Regions from separate parts of the Homo sapiens genome. Here regions 1, 2, 3 and 4 are each reported to be linked to region 5. Evidence: microRNA targets listed by miRTarBase, many of them from high-throughput screens and not tested one by one. Region 5 holds a microRNA gene; each other region holds the end of a gene's coding sequence. Distances are from middle to middle.

Region 1 (3,041 bases), not on the chromosome of region 5:
GCGGTCACCCCAGTCGCCGGCCTCTTCCCACCTGGGCGCGGGACCCGAAAGCCCAGCGTCGACGACGCAGCCACTTCCGATTCCGGTCGGAGCACCGCCCCGTCCCCGAACACGTGACACACACTTCCGGCCTCCTCTCCCGCCGGCCCGCCGCTCATCGCGGGGCTCCGCCCCGTCTTAAAGGGATAGTGCCCTTGAGACTCGGATCTCAGCCTCTCAGGCGAACCCGAACCTGGACGCGCTACGATGAGAGCGAGTTCGAGTCCAGGCTCCACTGGCTGGGTAGAAAAGCATCCGAGGCTCGTCTTTCTGAAAAGGGGAACACGGCACTAGGGGACACGCCACCCATGTGGCTGACGGGAGCACAAAATTGCTGTCCACCTAAGGGAGCCTGGTGGTGCATGAGCACTCGGCGGCCGGAACACAGCGGGGGCGGGGCGGTCGCGGCGCCTCCACTTCCGGCCAAGGCGGGTCCTCCCACCTCGGGGACGGTGCTGGAGGTCACCTTTTCCTCTCCGCTGATGCCTGGGAAGGCAGAAAGAGCAGAGGGCCCTTTTCCTCTCTCAGGGGCTTTATTGAGATGCAGTTTACATACCATAAAGTTCTCCTGTTTATTTCGTTTTGTTTTGTTTTTTTAGAGACAGAGTCTCACTGTGTCGCCCAGGCCGGAGTGCAGTGGCGTGATCTCAGCTCACTGCAACCTCCGCCTCCCGAGTTCAAGCAATTCTCCTGCCTCAGCCTCCCGAGTAGCTGGGACTACAGGCGCCCGCCACCACGTCCGTCAAAATTTTTTTTTGTATTTTAGTAGAGATGGGGCTTCACTGTGTTGCCCAGGCTGGTGTCAAACTCCTGAGCTCAGGCAATCCGCCCGCCTCAGCCTCCCAAAGTGCTGGGATTACGGGCGTGAGCCACCGCGCCCGGCCAAATTCGCCTGTTTAAACTGTAAATTCAGCCTGGGCGCGGTGGCTCATGCCTGTAATCCCAGCACTTTGGGAGGCCGAGGCGGGCAGATCACTTGAGGCCAGTTTGAGACCAGCCTGGCCAACATGGTGAGACCCCGTCTCTACTAAAAATACAAAAATTAGGCTGGGTGTGTTGGCTCACGCCTGTAATCCCAGCGCTTTGGGAGGCCGAGGTGGGTGGATCACGAGGTCAGGAGATCAAGACCATCCTGGCTAACATGGTGAAACCCTGTCTCTACTAAAAATACAAAAAGAAAAACAAAATTAACCAGGCATGGTGGCGGTTGCCTGTAGTCCCAGCTACTCAGGAGGCTGGGGCAGGAGAATGGCATGAACCCGAGAGGCAGAGCTTGCAGTGAGCCGAGATCGTGCCACTGCACTCCAGCCTGGGCGACAGAGCAAGACTCTGTCTCAAAAAAAAAAATATTGTTGAGAGAGAAGGAAGGAAGGAAGGGACAGAGAGAGGGAAAAGGAAAGAAAGAGAAAGAAAGGAAAGAAGGAAGGAGAAGAAAAAGGAAGGAAGGAGAGAGAGAAAGAAAAAAAAGAAAAAGGAAATAAAGAGAAGAAAGTAAAGAAGAAAAGGGAGAAAAGAAAGGAAAGGAAGGAAAGAGAAGGAAGAACGGAAGAAAGGAAGGCGAGAGAGAAAGAAAAAGAAAAGAAAGAGGAAGAAAGAAAAAGGAAAGAGAAAGAAGGAAAGAAAGAAAGAAAAGGAAAGGAAGGAAGGGGCCAGGTGCGGTGGCTCAAGCCTGTAATCCCAGCACTTTGGGAGGCCGAGGTGGGCGAATCACGAGGTCAGGAGATCGAGACCATCCTGGCCAACATGGTGAAACCCATCTCTACTAAAAAAGGAAGGAAAGAGAAGGAAGAAAGGAAGGAAAGAAGGAAGGAAGTAAAGAAAAGGAAGGAAGGGAGGGAGGGAGGAAAGGGCCAGGCACAGTGGCTCACGCCTGTAATCCCAGCACTTTGGGAGGCCAAGGAGGGAAGATTGCTTGAGGCCAGGGTTCAAGGCTGCAGTGAGCTACAATCGCACCACTGTACTCTAGCCTAGTCAACGTAGGGAGACCCTGTCTCAAAACAAACAAGAAAAAAAACAAAGGAATCACCGCAGGAGAGGATTCTGGGCCATGGTGAGCCATGTTCTGGGGCTGGACATTACTGCTGACCCCCGGCCATTCCCTGCTGTTCCCACTGCCTGGGGTCCCTGGGCCTGGGCGGACTCTTTCTCCGTGGCCGGCTGCATTCTCCATGGACTGATGTCCGGGGACCCCAAGCAGAAACCACCTGAGCCCTGGGGCCTCGGGCCCACCCTGCTCCAGAGGAGGCCACAGACTGAGCACCTTCTAAGCAACCTTTATTTGCAAACTCTGAGGTTGGACGCGGTGCCCGAGGCGGACAGTGTCACGTTTCTCTCCCTCCACTTTCCCCTGGCTTTTGGGGTGCTCCAGCCTCTCCCCCCAGCCCACTCCCGCCCAAACCCAAAATGCAGAGGAGACTTCTCTCTCTCTCTCTCCCGCCAGGCTTCGGGGTTCCACGGGGCCCATCCCTGGCAGGCCAGGCGTCGGGTGCTGGTGCTCGCTCCTCTGGGGCCAGCCTGGGGAGGCAGCATGGCAGCAGTGCCTGTCAGGGACCCAGGCGGGGGCAAGGTCGCTTTCTGAGCTGACAACTTCAGGTTCCAGCTGGCAGCCAGACCTGGGGTTTGGTGGGGGTGGCCCTGGCACGGGAGAGCCAGGCGTATAGTGGGAGGTCCATGGACATGCCGCAGAGGACGGGGCCTCCGAGGGTCACGGCCAGGAGGCTCAGCACCATGGCCGAGGCTGGGCAGCGGTGGTGGGGACAGGCGGCAGCTCTAAGCCGGGGGCGGCTGTCGGGGGTGGTGGGTCCCATGCAGGAGCCCTGCTGCTGGTCCAGCGTGGAGGATGGGGGACAGGAGGTGCAGTCCCTCGGGGAGCCGCCGCGGCAGGTGTAGCAGGAGGCATGGCAGCTGGAGCAGACCCTCAGCGCGGGCGCCGCCGTGTGCCCAGGCCCAGCGGTCACCAGCCTTGTGTGGTTGAAGAACCGCGGGGGGCAGTAGGCCAGGCA
Region 2 (4,595 bases), not on the chromosome of region 5:
ACCTCCACCTCCTGGATTCAAGTGATTCTCCTGCCTCAGCCTCCCAAGTAGCTGGGATTACAGGCACCCGTAAGCCACCACAACCGGCTAATTTTTCTATTTTTAGTAGAGATGGGGTTTCACCATGTTAGCCAGGATGGTCTCCATCTCCTGACCTCGTGATCTGCCCACCTTGGCCTCCCAAAGTGTTGGGATTACAGGCAAGAGCCAACACGCCCGGCCTGGAGTTTTTAGGGTAAAACGTGCAGCTCTTCACGTCTTCAGACTTTCTTGCCAAGACTCATGACCATTGGGGGAGAGAAGCATTTTGATGATATCTATGCTACTGCTTCAGAACATAGGTGACCATGACAGCTTCACTTCAAGATGGCATCAGTCTTGCCACACCACAGGCTGTATGGTTCCTACATACATGATCTTCAGGTTATCTGCGGCTACTGTATTGGCATGGTGAAAGTAGAATACAGTGGTGTGACGCTACCCACTTCTTCTCAATTCATGTTCAGTGACATTATTTTGACACCTTGTAATTGGCCATGGTGGGAGTATTTTACCAGGGAAATTGGCAAATATTAAAAACCAGGGCTTATTTGTTTCATTGAATGGTTAGACCTAAGAAAGTGATGGAGAATTTGTCAATGAAGGTAGTGTTTCAGGTATATAGTGTCTGTAGTTGTTACACTGTGAATAGACCAAAAAACTGAGAAATTATTTTCCCAGTATTTGAAAACAATTTTATCATTTAGCAAATAAGTGCATCACATTACTGAAGAATGAGTAAAGTTTCAACATAAGTCTTTGTTATACGTCTATTTATTAATGAAAAAGTATCACCAACATCCATTTAAAAATAAGCAAAAGACATTAATAAACATTCTTCCAAAGAGGATATACAGGTGGCAACTAGATACAAGATGTTCAAATGTTCAATACCATAAAATACCAGAAAAATGCAATAAAATCACAGACAGATGCTATTATACAGCTATTAAAACAACTAAAATTAAAAAGACTAACCATACCAAGTATGGCAAGAATGTAGAGAAATAAGAAGGTTCACATACTGTTGATGAGAATGCAAATGGTACAGTTAGGTTATAGTCTGGCCTTGTCTTTAAAAGTGACGCATTCACGTACACTGTACTACTGACACAGGAGAAATAAAGCATTTCTGCATATTAAGAGTTATATGCCTATGTTCATAGTAGCATTATTTGCAACAGCCCAAAACTGGAAAGCATCCAACTGTTTATCCAAATTGTGACATATCCACAGACTATTTCTCAGCAATACAAATGAACTATTCACATAAGCAATATTGATAAATCTTAAAAGTAATTGTGCATCAGCTGGTGTGGTGGCTTACGCCTGTAATCCCAGCACTTCGGGAGGCTGAGGCGGGCGGATCACGAGGTCAAGAGATCAAGACCATCCTGGCAAACATGGTAAAACCACATCTCTACTAAAAATACAAAAATTAGTTGGGCGTGGTAGTGCATGCCTGTAGTCCTAGCTTCTCAGGAGGCTGAGGCAGGAGAATCGCTGGAACCCAGGAGGAGGTTGGAGTGAGCCAAGATCATGCCACTGCACTCCAGCCTGGTGACAGACTGAGACTCCATCTCAAAAAAAAAAAAAAAATTGTGCATCATCAGGAAAAATGGAGTAAGTATTTTACGTTTCAATTCACATAAAATCCTAGAAAACACAAACTATTCTCCTGTAGGGAAAGTAAATGACAGGACTCCTGAAGGCCTGGAAAGTACACGCAGAGATTGTAAAACAGCAAGAGGTGAATCATGAATATGTTCATGATCATGATTATGGTTTCACAGGCTTGTATGACAAACTCTTCAAATTATACACCATAAATGGATGTAAACTATGGCATGTCACTTACACATCAAGAAAGTTTGTAAAACATGTTTCACAATAAAGTATCTGATCACCCAACTTTCAGAAACCAGAATGCCTAGCAATCTCATGTTGACTGCACTCTCTCTTCAGGCCTGGGGAAGGGCAACCATGAGTCCCTCCATGCAGGAAATGTTGGCAAGCAATGAAGGCTGTGGCAATTTGAGACAACAGCAACACTGGTGGAAATCACAAGAGCTATCAATACATCCCTGGCCTATAGGACTTCTGTTATCTTTATCCTCCTTTTTCTGCCTCTACAGCAATGCACTTGAGGTGAACAACCTAGAAAACCAACAAGAATTAAAAAATAAAACCCTTTAATTATTTTTGCTGAAAATAACCTCAGCTATTGGACATACACAGATTTCTAGGTCCTATGACTGCTCAAAGCCACAGTCACGGGAAGATTTGTAAATGTACTTTTATAAGAGGCACATTCCAACTAGTTTGCTACAGTACACACAGTACAGAAATACCCAGGTATTTCTGTACCAATTACAGTTCACATGTGACTCGCGTTGTCTTCTGCGTGACATCGGCCTATGGAATGTTTGATATCAGGGCATGCCTCCTTATAGAACCCCATGAAAAGCTTCTCAGCAGCACTGGGCATCATATGACATCCTCTGGAAACAATGGAATAAAATTGTCCTATTCCCTGAAGCACACATGCTTGTCATAACAGCTGGCCTCTCCTCAGGATGACCTCTAGTCTCACAGAAAGAATAGGGATCCAGGCCACAAATTAGAATAACCAAAACCTTGCATTTTTTCCTAGGAGATTTTAGGTAGCAAAGCAAGTATGACCAAAACCAGAATTAGAATTACTCTGTCATCTTACTTTCCTGCAGAGGCCCACAAAAGCCATCCATTCCTTCATATAGAGTTGAAGTCTGTCTCCCAGCCACCCCACACAGTAAACAGAACCCCAAGACTACAGGTAGATTCAAATATAAGGCTTTTATTAGTGCACAAACTGGAGCAATGTGAGGCAGCCATTCACCACGTGGTGACATGGAGGCTGGAAGAATGACCAAGTGTCATGTGAGACCAAGAATTTACATGAAGGGAATCCTTGCACATAAGTGTCCAGCAGAACCAAGGCTGGGCCCTCCTGACCCAAACTGGGTCACACGTATGCTGTGATCAGTCAGAAAAAAGAATGAATTTTCTCTAAAGGCTTAGACTGCTCAAGATTTCCTCCAAAGACTTAAGAGAACACACAGATGTCTGCCTTGTCTTAGCACATAGGAGTGACCAGTGCCCACTGTGCAAGGTGGTAGAGGGTAGATGGTTTCTACCAGAGAAACAAGGAAGAATGAGGTTCAACTTCAGGCAGATGGCTCCCTCACAAAGGCTCTCTACTGCTACAATACTACAGAGACAGCACTTTCCCTGTAGGTCTAAGGCTCTACTTAAGTGTGGACTTTCAGGAGCTAAATGATGATAGATCTTGAGTTGAAGGCGCTTCCACATTTGCTGCATTCATGAGGCCTCTATGTGTTATGACATTTTTGGTGATGTATGAGGCTGGAGCATTGGCTAAAGGAATTCCCACATTTGTTGCACTCATAAGGCCTTTCTCCAGTGTGAACCACTTGGTGTTGAATGAGACCAGACTTTTGGCTAAAGGACTTTCCACACTGGCCACACTCATAAGGCCTTGCTCCAGTATGAATTCTCCGGTGTTGAATAAGGATGGAGCTTTGACTAAAGGATTTCCCACAGTCACCACACTTATAAGGCCTTTCTCCAGTGTGAACTCTCTGGTGTTTAATGAGGGTAGCTTTTTGACTAAAGGATTTCCCACACTGGCCACACTCATAAGGCTTTGCTCCAGTGTGAATTCTTCGGTGTTGATTAAGAATGGCACTTTGACTAAAGGAATTCCCACATTCACCACACTTATAAGGCCTTTCTCCAGTGTGAACTCTTTGGTGTTTAACAAGGGTGGCTTTTTGGCTAAAGGATTTCCCACACTGGCTACACTCATAAGGCCTTGCTCCAGTGTGTATTTTCTGGTGGTCAACAAGGCTGGAGTTTTGTCTAAATAATTTTCCACATTCGCTGCACTCATAAGGCCTTTCTCCGGTGTGGATTCTCCGATGATCATTCAGGTGGGAGGTTTGGCTAAAGAATTTTCCACATTCATTGCACTCCCAAGGCCTTTCTCCAGTATGGACTCTCTGGTGCTGAACAAGTGAGTACTTGCCACGGAAGGCTTTCCCACATTTGCTACACTCATAAAGCTTTTTTCCAGTGTAGACTCTTGGATGGTAAACAGGAGTGTGTTTGTGCCTGGAAGCCTTCCCACATTCACCTGACTTGTAATGACTTTTTTGACTGCGAATGTCCTCCCCACATTCAGTAATTGTGCCGGGTTTCTTGCCTCCAGGAAAGACCAGGGACCTCAGAAGCCGCAACATGGCTGGAAGGTCCTTTCCAACCTCCCATTTGCGAAAGGGCTTCAATGACATACAGAATAGGCAGCACTTCACATATGAGGCTCTGTCCATGTCCCTCTTCAAGGATTTCTTTGCACTGTGATGCTTCTGGTGCTGGTGATGGTTTGTACATTCTCCAACCAAGTATGGTTTCTGCCCAGGGAGATCAGCTAGATGCAAAATATCTTTCAGGACTGGGACACACATCTCACAGGATTGAGTCTTCTGTGTGGATGA
Region 3 (4,595 bases), not on the chromosome of region 5:
ATTTGTATGCTGATACAGTGAACTATGTTTTTTTTAAAACATTGGATCAACTTTTATTCCCAGGATAAACCCTACTTGGTCATGATGTATTCTTTTTATAATACTATGACCAGATTTCATATGCCAGTATGATAGATGACAGTTTTATAAAGTCCCAGTGACCTTATAATAAACATAACCCTAAACATACTTGTTTTCTTATTGCTTTTGAATAGAAACTGAGTGTCTTAAATGCTGTCACAAAATTTGCCATTTAGAAGGAAATTTTTAATTAAAAAAAACCTTATAGCTTTCAACTCATAAAATCACATGGATTAAAAAAAAAAGCTCACCTTTGGTATACAGATAATGACAAAATGTGCATTCAAGAAGCCCTAACAAGAAAAGCCTGAAGTAATTTACATGATGAAAATAACTCCAATAGAAAGGGATTTTTAGTTGATTGCCTTCCCTTCTGCTTTGGGTAGCCACACCAGAATTCCTATATAAAATGCTTAAGAGATACAACATGATCAAAGTTATGGCCGGAGGTCCTGCTGTGAAGCTTCATTTACATAACAAGTATTCATTTTCTTAACTATTTGTGTTACAGAACAATAAAAATAGATAACTTTTCTAAAATTATTTTTATTCACATTTTACATAAGATTGAAAAAATGTCAGTTGTTCACTACCAGAAAATGGGGAACTAATCACTCTGTTTGCTTTTGTACCTGTAACATTAAGGTTCTGTTTCCCAGACCCCAGAGATAAGACCTACAGGTTGTGTTTAGTGCTTCAGAAAAAAAGGAAACTAAGAAAGATAGCTATCATAAGAACATTTCACATTAAAAGACAGAGTAGATTGATTTTCTAGGTATTTTTGTTTTTGAGACAAGGTCTCACTCTGATTGCCAGGCTGGAGTGCAGTGGTGTAATTTTGACTCACTACAGCCTCAACCTCTGCAGGCTCAGGCCTTCAAAGTAGCGAGGACTGCAGGTGTGCGCCACCACACGCAGTGAATTTTTTTATATTTTTAGTAGAGACAGGGTTTCACCATGTAGCCTGGGCTGGTCTAGAACTCCTGGACTCAAGTGATTCACCCGCCTTGACCTCCCAAAGTGCTGGAATTACAGGCGTGAGCCACCATGCCCGGCTGAGTTTCTGCTCTTAAAAGAAACAGTGGGGAAAAAAAGAGAAGACATATTCTCATTTCAAAGCAATTTATGTTAGTAATAACTGAGCAAAATGATAGAATTTTTTAGTTGTGTGTTTTCAGAAGTAATGTCAAATTTACTTCAGATAATTTAAAAGGTTTTTTGCATATTAAATGGTTAATAAAGTGGTGTTATTATACTAAAGAAAAAATGCAAAACCTTTTTTACAGAATAGTATAAATGTTTATTTTCTGTATGATTTACTTTGCTGTCCTGTTTTTACAATATAGAAAAGTGTATTCTTTGAATAGCTCTAGTAAATATAAATTTAATCTTTCTACTTTGGGATGTAAATAGAGCTAAAAAATTATATACCCAACCCTCCCCAAATAGTCTTTTAAAATCATTGAATTAATGTGGCTATTCATCTTGTTCAGCAATTTGATGCAAATGCCTGAATACAAAAAGTTATTTAGTAAGTACTACACAGGAAGGAAAAGGCTTAATATTTTAGATAGATAGATTTTTGAAAATCAGAAAAACTAGTAGCATTTGATTGCACCTTGAAATTTTTTTACAAGCAAAACATTCGTAAGCAATGCCATCATACATAATCTACAATTGTAATCAAAATTTCACGAACATTTTCTGCACACTGTATATAAATACACATCACAAAGGTGCAATTAGAATTAACACAGAGTATGTACAAAATGAACAAAGTTTAAGTTTAGACCAAAAACTTATTGCAATCTTTTGAAAAATAACTTGATTATTATTTTACCCTCTTACACTAATTTACATTTATACAAATTTTAATTAAACATACTAGATTGAGGTGCTAAGAATGTTTGAACTATCTACATTTAAAGTTACTGCACTATGATTTTATAAATCCAAATTTAAAAGGAAGATACTTTAGTGAATAACGGAATCCTCTTTTGGATTACTTAATTTCTATTGCCTATATCTTGCATGTTCATATGAACATATATACACACTTAATACATACAACTATAGAGTCCTTGTAGGAAATGAAATAATCATATACTAATTACTGATGATTAAGGTACCTAACAAAATGCCTGAATTCCAACATGGTTTTTTCTTGTCATAAAATCAAGAGTCCTGTCACAACAGGCTCTTAAATTCATAGAGTTTTTGAATACTGAAAATGATTTAGGTTATTTTAGTAATTATAGGAAAACAGACCTTCCAAATCACTGGCTGAAAATAATGCCATATTAAACTTCCCTTATAAAAAGAAATCCCACCACAATTTTGAAAATTTTGTTAGGAGGCCCATTTCTGTAAATCAAGTAAGAGTTGCGATTTGGTTTGAAACCTCTTAGTTCAAAAGTCTATAAAAAGGGCCTGGCACGGCGGCTTATGCCTGTAATCCCAGCACTTTGGGAGGCCGAGGCGGGCGAATCACGAGGTCAGGAGATCGAGACCATCCTGGCTAACACGGTGAAACCCCGTCTCTACTAAAAATACAAAAAATGAGCCGGGCATGGTGGCATGCACCTGTAGTCCCAGCTACACGGGAGGCTGAGGCAGGAGAATCGCTTGAACCTGGGAGGCAGAGGCGTTGCAGTGAGCTGAGATCTCACCATTGCACTCCAGCCTGGGCTACACAGCGAGACTCCGTCTCAAAAAAAAAAAAAAAAAAGTCTGTAAAAATAATTGATTGTATAGATGAAAACTTCTCTAAATTCATCTTTTGCAGCTTCCCTATTCTTTGTTTCTCCACCCATGCCAAATTTTATACTTGATTACTATGTGAGGTTCTATATTATCACTACATAATGTTTACTTCCATTTATATCCACCTATCATTTTAATAGTACCCAGTAATCACTTTGACAATTTATTACTTCAAATACATACCACCTCTTTGAAAGAAAATGGAGACAGCCCAGAGCATCTGTTAGCCTTTCCTTATTATAGAAACACATTGCCCATCCTCTGAGATTTACTGTCCTTTAATATTTTATATGTTTTTTTAAATAACTTTAAAAAATTTTTAGTGTGCCTGGGGATTGTTTCCCCTTCTGACATTCCCAAAGTGACAACAGGATATTATTCCAGAATCGGCCCTAAAAGGCTGCTTTTTCTTTAAAAGATAGTCCTTTTCTAAATACAAAATGTCATTTGAATGTGTTTCATAAGAATTTGTTTATGTAACATTCTGTCTGCAGATATTCTAGATCAAGTCCCAAAGAATGGGTGCTAACCACTGCTGCTTTGGCTTTTCTATTAACAAAGTCATACAACACCATACATTATAAATTATATGAATTTATAAACATTTTTTGTCAAAGGTATCAGAAAGAGAACATCTAATTCTTAAGAAACCCAAGCAAATTAAAAAATCTATATAATAAAGAAAAATTCAATTTAGAAGGGGCATAAGCAGATTTAACTAAGATTTAAAATGTACTAATTTCCTCATTTAAAATTTCTTCTCCTTCAGTATTATAATTTCAGGTCTTTTAAAACAAGGACTGAATTAAAATACAGTAATTGTTTTTCTTCCAGAAAATCAAGTGTCCCTGCACCTTAAATTTTCTGTACAGTTCCATTTATCAGTCTTTTGTGCAAGAGTTAGCAATTCATGGCACAAGGGTCACTTTTTGCCTTTCCTGCAGAGTTGATGACACTCATCAAACATCGTCCGAATTCCTCAAGTATCATCCGTTCCGCTGCTGCCTTTGATTTTCCCTTCTTGTCTGCCTGCTCTGCCTGGGCAAGGAGGCAATTACATGTGGCTTCAGCTACTTCCTTAGTTACAAATGTAAATGGCAATCTGAAATGATTTTTGAAAGAGAAAGATGATGGTGGTGTTAAATAACAACAAAAGTGGATAACATTCTTTCATCTGGAAATCTCTACTGACACTTTCACAATTCACCAGCAGGATGAGCATCACAATTTACACAGTGAGCACAAGCACATCCTAAAAAGGGCTTTAAAAAGTTAAATTTGGTTTTATTCACATATTGTAAGAATATTGTTCAGGAAATTTAACATAAAACACGTTACTTATTACCTAGGCAAGGTTATGTGGTTAACTAAAAGATAATAGTCTACACGAAGACTAGAATTTCTTTAACTAAAATCCTCCTAAATCATGAATGTACGCTCTGTAAGTTCAATTCTTATTTACTGCTGTTGCTCCAGTGCCTAGAATAGTGCATGACATAGAGACGCTACATGAATAGTTGCTGAATGAATGAATAATACTGGGAATTGACAGCACTATCTCTTCGGCAAAATGAAAAATAAAGCACTTTACCATAGTCACTGATACTGTTTGTAGAAAACATTCCAAAATTCTGCATCGTTCTAGCACAACAAAACAAAATGGCGAAACCAAATGTTCTGTACACAGAGTTGCATTCATAAAGACCTGAGCTATTGAGTATTAAATTGGAGCAACCCATCGTGAGGCTTGC
Region 4 (4,595 bases), 120 Mb from region 5:
TTATTATAATACGAAAGATACTATATCCCCATCCTCCTTGGTTTTCAACATATCTAAGGTATTGTCATCCTACATTCTTATTGGAATTTCCCCACCTACCCTTGATCATCACTGAGGAAATGTCTCCATATATTTAACTCCTTCATACAATCAATAAAAATGTAGTTTTCTGTTTCATCTCTTGTTTATGAGTTTCCACTTCTGGTGGAGTCCCAAAAAAATCAAATCTGGTTTTGATTTAGCTCATCTTATATTTTCTTCAATGTAACCCCATCACCATTGGTCTTTCTCACAATTCCACCGACCTTCAGACATATCCAGCCAATTTTACTGGTATCCAATATCTGCCTAACACCTCTGACATTCTAAGTCTCTTTGTAAGTCCAACATGGTTACTTTTAAGAAAATAGAAATCAAATTACGTGTTGAACTGAATAAACCACCATCCATTGAGTGAAACAGTTAAAGTGGCACTCAGGGAAACAACAATAATAGATTGCTGTTCCCAAAGATAACTGATTTTTTTTTAACTTGCTTAGCTCAAATATATTGATTTATACCATTCAATGTATCTCTTTCTACCCAAACATATAATACACATGCACACTTACATACACACAAATATACACAGACATGCACCCATATATATTGATGATAGACAGATAAATAGATGAATAATTACCAACACTGACACTTCCTCCAATATATTCCTTTATAATTCCATTTAATCTTCAAATTTAATAAATATATTTATAGATTAGTAATAAAAATGACTAAATGAATACTAACAACACACTTGATATTACTTTTTTTAGAAAGCCCTACCATCAACCCTCAAATTGTACACGATCATTAAACTTCTCTGTGTAGTCTCTCCAGCCAATTCCAATGTATGTGCAATCATCCACCTGAGTGAATTAAACCAGCTGAACAAATACAATATGGAGAGATGATAGCTTTCACCAAGTCCAAGAGCATAACTCACTGCCCTTTTTATTCACTCTTTCTAAAAGTGTAACTGAAAAGATATCCTTGATAAATTGAAACTTTATGATGCAAAATCAACATTTTTCAAAAAGATTCTAACACAGTTTAAAGGCTTCTAAAAATTAATAAATACAACCAATAGAGAAATAAACATAACATGGACATTTGGCAACACAGTATCTCAAATCAGATATAAGGTTGCTACAATAATGTACTATATAACTCTGCCATTTTTAAGTATATTTCACTCATTGACATAGCAATCACAACTCTCCTTCATTCCTTCAGAGGGTTGCTGGTAAATTGATCAAGAAATGTGCTTGAAATGTATTTGATTGATGCATTACAACTATAAAATAGTTCCAAAGTGCAAATCTGTGTAAAAGTGTCATACACATCAGCTATTCAGCCAATTGTCATATAAAAAATATATGGTAGCCACTTAAGTGTACTATAAAGTGAGGATAACCATCTGAAATTTATAAATATTCAAGCCTTTGCCGAAAGCAGCTTGTATGTGAAACTTAAATGGCATACAGTACACCAGAAAAAGGCTCCATTCCAAAGTACTACAAAAAAGAATTGTATTTACAGATGACATGAACTAATCAGATACATCCAACATCGTCTGGAAAACTTAATGGCATGCCATAACTTAATATCACAGTCAACATGCACAACAGACCTCATAATTATTTTTTCTAATAACAAAGCCAAAAGCAAAGAAGTAAATGAAGCAATATAAAAATGAAACAGTGAAAGACAAAGGGAAGTACCACAAAAACGTTTCAATGATATCACTGAAATGACTTGAGAAACCAGTTAGGCCTCTGGAGCTTTATTATTATTATTATTATTATTATTATTATTATTATTGGCAAGTCCTGTCATGAAAATGCCCTGAAGATTCAGACCTTTGCAATTTTTCCAAAGCTCCTTCCCACTGGAACAAGTCTTAATGGAAAAGCACAAGATGTACAGAGAAGACTGGGATCACCTCTCCCACGGCATTGGAAGAGCTGATGAAAAGGAGCAGTTCCTCTATCCCAGAGCATCTTCTGGGTGGTGACTTTTTTTGCCTGTGGGCCATGCCTCTCTGTCCTCACAACAGCTGCAGAATGAAACACCGCACCTCCAACAAAGCTCACATACCCTGCCGAGCTCCCCTGCGATGGAGGCTTCCAGAATGCAAATACGAGCTAGGCATCTCAGATGGATTTGATTTCAATCAACATTAGTGCCAAATGAACATCTTTGATATGCAAAATGTCTATGCTACTGAATAATACAGAATCATCTTTCCCCACAAAAACTTTCTTCTAGGAGGTTAAAGGAAATAGTCGATCTGTAAATGTTAATATATCTATTGTAAAGATGAAGAAATTGAGGGACAGTAATTAAAGGAATCAAATGATCAGAAGAACTGGAACCCATAACATCTTGGGGAAAGTTAATATTTTATGGTCTTTAATAAAGCAGGGCTATTATAATCCTCATATGGAAGTACGTTGAAAGTTTATATCTAAAAAATATTAAAATCACATTTTATCAATAAATTTTCACATGCTGAATGATAGCAATATAATTTTTAAATGAGAATTTTAAAATATCAAATAGAATTATGGACCAAGCGGAAATGCTTGGTTTTTACATATTTTAAACAATATTACATTATACAATTAACTCACTTTAAGTTCATAAAAATTCAATCTACGTTATACATAATTTGGTATGCAGATTTGCTAGTTTTAAATGTAGTTTAAAGTTTATGTAAGCATGCACAATTAAGTGAATAAAACTAGGTAACCAAACCACTGTTGGTGAAAAAGCAAGATAAGTACATGCTCTCAGTCTTGTTTGTTGTGGCCCATTTTAACTGGTGAGTACATGGCTCCCACTAATTAGAACAACTGCTGTCTATTTTTAAATTCATTTGCTCACAAGAGCCAGTGAATGTGTATGTGGATATTATCTGTGTGGGCAAGAAACAAAATAAATTCTCTGACAACCTTGCCCATTCTTAATTATTCTTCAAGGATTTTTTTTAATTAGCAGAAGTGAATGCCAAGGAGACTTTAAGCCAAATCTATCGAGATTTTCCCCATGTCATGGTATTAAGCTATTATCAGGCCTTTGCGACCTGCATGAACTCTAACATGTTCAATGAAAGGGAGACCTGTTTACCTATTCCCTAAAGAACTAGGTCCTTGACAGCACTTAGACAAGATAGAGGCTTGCTGGTGTCTGGAGAGATTCTAGGACCTTCTTACTGAAGAAAATTTTAGTAAAATGATTAATTTGAATAGCAACTAAAAAGTTATATCTACTAACTTTATGCTGGGATCAATGAAACAAAATGGAAAAAAAGTATTCCTTGTTTTAAAATCTCTCAAGAAAATACTTGTGGCAACAGTTGATTTAGTGATGTATCTGAATATGCCATCCAACAACCAGAAATAGTAATCCAGCTAGCAAAGAAAAAAATATCCCAGCTGGGGCCAGGAAAAATGACCAGCCATACAGAACAGAAGGGGTGAAATCCAGGCAGTCCTTCATTTTCATGTTTCGGTAGCTTTCCATGTCAGCCACTGCCTGGACCCAGATGACATACAGCATCACCACCAATGAAAATAGGATGCCTGAGAAGGATGAAACAGAAGACTGTTAGCCTTTCTGAAGATGTTTTCTCAAGAACGCTATCTAAACCAATCATTGACCGGATGACAAGCTCCTGCAAATACATTTCTAGCAAAATCAAATACTCTACGTCAGACCTTTTATTATGTACTTTATAGATATTTCTTTTATCTTTCATCTTCAAAGCATTGAGAGGAGGGCTATAGTAGCCTAAGAACAGCAATCACTGACAGGTATTTATTGAGTGTTTCCTGGGTGCCAAGGACTGTAGTAAGTGCTTGTGAACATTAGTGAATATCTCAGCACTTGTAGAATTTATATTCTAACTTTTTTTTTTCTTTTTTACTGCACAAATGGTTTGGGATGAGCACTATACTATGTTATTTCTTTCAATACATAGAATAAACATTGAAATAGGTACACTTACCACCTGGTTTTAGATATACACAGACACAGACAGTGGTTTTCAGAGCTGATTTTCAGCCCGGGTCTTTCTGACTCTTGTTATACTATTATAACCCAGCTAACTAATGCTGCAATTAAATATGGTTATACAAATAGAAACCAAAGTAAGCACTAGACAAGAACGGAGATGAAAACACTGAACAAACATAAAAGAATATACGTGATTCTTCAGAATCTAAATATATATATATATATATACACACTAAAGATTGATTACAGCATAGAGAAAACATTGTCTTGAATAAATGAGGGAGGAAGATTGATGATAAAAGATTTTGTGTAATATAAAATCATGGATTAGAGATCAACAGCCATATTAAATGAAAGAAAAAAAGAAAGAGAGAGAATGAAGGAAGGGAGGAAGGGAGGAAGGAAGGAAGGAGGGACAGAGGGAGGGAAATAACAAATGCCTAACCACTAACTAGAGGGCAACATCCCAATTTAGCAACAATTACAACGTAACTGTAATCCACTGGTTCCAAACACTCTTGGAATTAGATGAAGTA
Region 5 (4,595 bases):
CGGAGTAGGCAGAAGATTATGTGAGCACTGTGCAGTGCCCATTTTACAGATGGACAAATGAGACGGAACCTCTACTCCTCACACTGGGTATGGTGATGAGTATCATGGTCTGTAAAATATAAGCTCTCTGAGGTCAGGGACTTCACTTCCTTTGTCCCCTGGTGTCTAGAACATGGCTGGGCACACAGCTGGTGGCACTCGGTGGATGTTTGCTGAATGAGAGAATGAGCATGAAGATTGGAGGCCCAGGGATGACCGGATGCCTTGTGTTACTCCCACTGTGCTTGTAAAAAGCCTACGTGATGAGGCATGCTTCCAAAGGCACCATCTCTAGCCTCGTGTGAGGTCACCTGTGTTTCTGGAGCAGTAGGGTGTGTTTGCTGACATGCCGTGCCCCTGCCCCAGCCCATTTGTTGTTCTCTGAGTTCTGTCTGTCTGTGTGTACCGACACTCAGACGTGTCACCGTGCATGTCTGCTGTCCGCCAGCAAGGGTCACGTGCCCCCAAACTTTGCAGAAAACAGGAAGCCCCGTCAGTGAGAGGGCAGCCCAGTGATTCATCAGGGGATGACAGTCCCAGCTGTTCGTCCCCCATCCTCTGCACTGGGGTCACTGTCCAGGGTGGCTTCCTCCCCATGCCTCCCCTCCCCTCCCCGCCCGGTGGAGCAGAGCGGGCTTGGACTTTGCCTTATCACCTCTGGAGGCGGCCTGGCCAGACTCTGTTTGGGCCAAGTTTTTATTTATCTTCACTGGCTTTTTTTGGGGTGGGGAGGCTGAGGAATGTGGAGTGTTGTAATGTTTGGAAGAGGGCGGTGGGGAAAGGGGAGCCAGGTCTCCTGTCCTGCTTGTCCTGCTTACCCCTGCACCTTTGCAGGCTCCCGGCCCCCCTTGGTTCCCCAGTTCCCCCTGCCAAGCCCATATCAATATGGCCCATTGTCTTTCTCCAGCTCCCTGGGTCTGGTCCCATGCTCCTGGCCACACCTCACGTCTTGGCTACCGTTGTGGCTTCCAGTTGTTCAAAGCAGCTGTGGTGGCTTCCTCCAAAAGTGGCTACGGATCAGCAACAGATGAAACTCAAGGGGCTATTTATAGCAGGGTGGCCCTGGGGCCTGGAGCAGGGCCTAGGGCCTGGGGAGATTCAGGGACTCCTCATTAGGGACCAGTGAAATGGAGATGGGTGAACTGTTGGGTTTCTGTGTTCCTCTGAGGGGGCAGTTTTGGAACAGCCTGGTTTGGGTCTTGAAAACCAAACACAGTCACTCGTTGACTCCCAGCTCCACCCCTGTCTAATCCCCCCACCCCCAAGCTTGACTCATGCAAACTGGAGTCCTCAGGGCCAGAAGAGCTGTGAGACTTAGAAACTTCCCCCCAGTAGCCCCACTTGGCTCTTCCCTCCTTCACTGCTGAGGAGCTGCTCATTGGTCCGAGGCAGCTGGGACTCTGGGCAGAGCCTTCTTCCGGACAGCTGGATGGAGGGTCCCCCTCTTAGCAGAGCTGCTCTAACTTGGGGCTCAGCTGGGAGCTGGACCTCGGAACCCACCTATCCTGCCTCGTAGGCACTGCGGAGCCAGGAGAGGGGTGCAGGGGCTCCTCTTCTTGGAGACCCCGTGGTCAAGCCCCAGGTTGGAGTGTGAATCCTGCCTGGCCGTCAACTTCCCAGGGACTTGAGGGTAAGTTATTCTGTGCCTCAGTTTCTTCCTTTCTTGGCAGATTGTGGTCCTGTCTCTTTAAAGAAGAGGCTGCAACTTGGCGGTAGGAAAAGACCATTTTCTGAGAGGCACATGGGTGTTTGGAAGGTGTCAATGGGCTCAGGAGGTCTGAGAATCTAGAAACTGGCCTTCCCAATTCTGCATCCTGTGAGGTGACTGGAAGGATGGGTAGAGGCGATGCAGGGTGTTGGTTTTCTATAGAGGTGAATGTTTGGTTGTAACTACCCTTTTCATTTTTCTTGATACAAAAGTAACAACAAAAACAACAGCTGTCATCTGGTAAATACCAGGCATGATGCGAAGTGCCTTATATGCATAACTCCTTTGGATCCTCACTGCCAGCCTGAAGGTTGTCCCATTTTACATGTGACATTACAAGAGGCTCAGAGGGGTTAAGTAACTGGCAGGGCTGCCCAGCAGGATCCTGGAATCCAAACTCTGTGGTCTGTGGGCCTCTGACCCTGTGCTTTCACACCCGCCATGCCATCCTGCTGCCCTGGGATGGATTGGGCCCATTTGCTTAAGTTTGTACCACTCGACAGCTGTGAAAAGGGGAGTGGGTGAGATGGTTACTGTCTGCCACAGACAGTGGGGAGTGGGCCCTCAGGAGCATGGCTCACTGTCTTAGGCCTCGTCTTGGTTCCTGCATGCTCCACCTGCCTGTTCTGGTCTCTAAACTCAATTGAATGACTTGATGTTACAGCTTTCAAGCAGAGAAGTGTGGGGTGATGGTGGCAAGACAGAGGGGCGCCATTACTCTCATCGCTCCTTTTGTGGTGGCAGTCGTATTCTCCTCCTGGGGTTTCTCTTGTGTTGGCGAGTGTATCAAAGTGAAGTGTGTTTCCATTGATTCAGTAACTGTTGAGTGTGCCCTCAGTGTGGATGGCACCAGCCCAGTGGGGTGCACTCCTCAGCATTCGGGATTCTTCCTTTTGTCCCTCTGGGGCTTGCACACAGGCAGGCACACTCACGTGGAATCAGTGTTGATGGCTTTGGCTTCGGGCAGGCTGTGTTTTTGCAGGGGTTAGGGTGGCAGGGCCAGAATGTTGGCAAGGAAAGAAGAGGATCATGTTTGCCCCCGTGGACAGCTCTCTGGTGTGCTCCTCCTGCCATCCTGCCCACCCCTGCATAATGCTGCTTCTCTTCTCTCCTTCCCAGGGCTCCACCAGGGTCACCCCGAGTGTCCAGCCCCACCTCCAGCCCATCAGGTATGCCTGGCCCGTGGGGGCAGGGGGCGGGAGTGCAAGCAGGGGGGTCACTGTGGGTGTCCCTGTTAAGTCTTGCCTCTGGGTCCCCCGGACTGCAGCCATAAAGCCACGGGTGGGGAGTGTGGGCAAACGTGAAAGGCACAGGAGAGGATGCGTGCGGATGCCGTTGGCAACAGTTGTGTTTTGAGCTCTTAGCCAGCCCTTGAGCTGAGTCTTTATTTACCTGCATGAGCTCATCTAGTCCTTGCAACAACCCCGCAAGGTACGTATTTTATTCCCTTTGGTAGAGCAGCATTTCAGAGAGATGAGGTGACTTGTAAAGGTCACACAGCCACCAAGAGGCAGCACTTGGATTTGCGTTTAGGGCTGATGAGCATTGAGGCCTGTGCTGGATCTCTTCCTCTCTGCAGACAGGATTCTGACTGGGCAGAGTCATTTATGAAAGGGAAGTTCCCTATCTGGCTGGGCTGGCAGGGGCCGGGGGAAGGGGATGCACAAGGGACTTTGTGTCCTGGCGATCCAGAGAGTTTGTTTTGCCCTCTCTGCCTCACCTTCACCCACTGAGGCTCCTGAGATGATTGGGGATGCCAGCCCTGCAGTAGAGTTGAAGCCCCTGGAAGTTTCTGGCCCAGCTGCCAGCTGTCCACAGACTGGAGGTGGCTCCTTAGAGGATCCCCTCCTTCCCTTAGACCTGGGCAGGTGGATGCAGAGTGTGATGCTGAGGCTGTCCGGCTGGTGGCACTGTTCTGCATTTGCGTCCTTCCTGGGATCCAGCCTGTAGACAGGGGCGGGTCAGTGCCCCAGATGGGCCACGTCTGACTCATGGCCCTCACCAGCACGGCCCCTCTTGCTCCCCTTCCTGTGCTGAGGGAGAGGCTGAAATCACAGGAGCTTGTCTTGCGAGTTTTTCTGACATTCTAGTTTCTTCCTTGGAGCCAGAACAGAGAGGGGTTTTGGAGGATGGGGAGGAGGGGATGCTGCAAGTTAGCTGAGGCTCCCCGCCCTCACACCCACTTGCTTGCAGGTATGTGTGCGTGTGGCTTCTTGTCCCAGACTGGTCACCACCTACAAGAACTGTCCTTGGGTAGGCAGTTGGCTTGAGATAGAAACTTCTCCCCCACAGCTGCAATGAGAAGCTTTCCATAGGGACAAGAAGTAGCTGGGACTCAGAGTCAAACTCAAACCGGGCTCCTTACCTCTGGGTGCTGGTCCCCAGTCCCACTCAGGCCCCTGTCATCCCAACAGAGAGGTCCTGCCATGCCTCATCCTTGGCTGCCCCATCTCCACACCCCACCTGGACTGGGATTGAACCCTGGTGGAGGTCTGGATTCCTCATGGCTTCTCAGCATCTGGGGGCTTGTTCTGTCTAGTGCCAGAGAGCCCTCATCACTTTTAAATACCCCAGTGGTATTCCTTTCGCTGCCCTCCACTCTCCACTTTATCCCGCTGTGGTGAAAGGTTAGCAGAATGAAATGTCAGTGCTGCCTGCATTTGATAGAGGGGGAAGCGAGACACTAGGAGGTCAATGATTGGGGAAAAAGCTGGAGGGATGGGGGAGGTGCTTCTAGAAGCAAGAGGTGGGCTTCCCAAGTGGGCATCCTGGACCCTTCCTCTGGAAGAAAAGTTGGGAGAGATGTAAAGATGCGAGCCCCTCCCTTCCTCACCCAGTGCCCAGTGGA

The links. Region 5 holds the annotated microRNA hsa-miR-6809-5p (UGGCAAGGAAAGAAGAGGAUCA, at 2,756-2,777, shown strand). A microRNA usually pairs through its seed, bases 2 to 8, with sites in the 3' UTR of a target mRNA and lowers its output. Matches are read on the target gene's strand: a 7mer-m8 pairs with bases 2 to 8, a 7mer-A1 pairs with bases 2 to 7 and ends in A, and an 8mer does both.
Region 1: miRTarBase lists PCSK4 as a target of hsa-miR-6809-5p. Seed matches in the 3' UTR shown: 7mer-m8 at 2,600-2,606.
Region 2: miRTarBase lists ZIK1 as a target of hsa-miR-6809-5p. Seed matches in the 3' UTR shown: 7mer-A1 at 2,048-2,054 and 7mer-A1 at 1,029-1,035.
Region 3: the mRNA of LIN54 is a reported target of hsa-miR-6809-5p. The part of its 3' UTR that is shown has no 7-base or 8-base seed match.
Region 4: the mRNA of TMEM182 is a reported target of hsa-miR-6809-5p. Seed matches in the 3' UTR shown: 7mer-A1 at 1,863-1,869.

Annotation. Positions count from the first base shown.
Region 1 is chr19:1,479,132-1,482,172 of GRCh38, forward strand. PCSK4 (proprotein convertase subtilisin/kexin type 4) reads right to left here. Exons shown (of 15, transcript NM_017573.5): 15 at 2,297-3,041. The coding sequence ends at 2,628. C19orf25 (chromosome 19 open reading frame 25) reads right to left here and starts at 84. Exons shown (of 3, transcript NM_152482.3): 1 at 32-84. RefSeq lists an enhancer at 131-250.
Region 2 is chr19:57,590,091-57,594,685 of GRCh38, reverse strand. It overlaps ZIK1 (zinc finger protein interacting with K protein 1), which reads right to left. Exons shown (of 4, transcript NM_001010879.4): 4 at 796-4,595. The coding sequence ends at 3,411. Among named protein-coding and RNA genes, the nearest start is that of ZNF530, 7.5 kb to the left of the region's middle.
Region 3 is chr4:82,924,358-82,928,952 of GRCh38, forward strand. LIN54 (lin-54 DREAM MuvB core complex component) reads right to left here. Exons shown (of 13, transcript NM_194282.4): 13 at 246-3,946. The coding sequence ends at 3,745. Among named protein-coding and RNA genes, the nearest start is that of THAP9-AS1, 26 kb to the left of the region's middle.
Region 4 is chr2:102,813,779-102,818,373 of GRCh38, reverse strand. TMEM182 (transmembrane protein 182) reads right to left here. Exons shown (of 5, transcript NM_144632.5): 5 at 695-3,626. The coding sequence ends at 3,406. Among named protein-coding and RNA genes, the nearest start is that of TMEM182, 54 kb to the right of the region's middle.
Region 5 is chr2:217,898,784-217,903,378 of GRCh38, reverse strand. MIR6809 (microRNA 6809) reads left to right here and starts at 2,751; the gene lies at 2,751-2,866. TNS1 (tensin 1) reads left to right here. Exons shown (of 33, transcript NM_001387777.1): 7 at 2,867-2,916.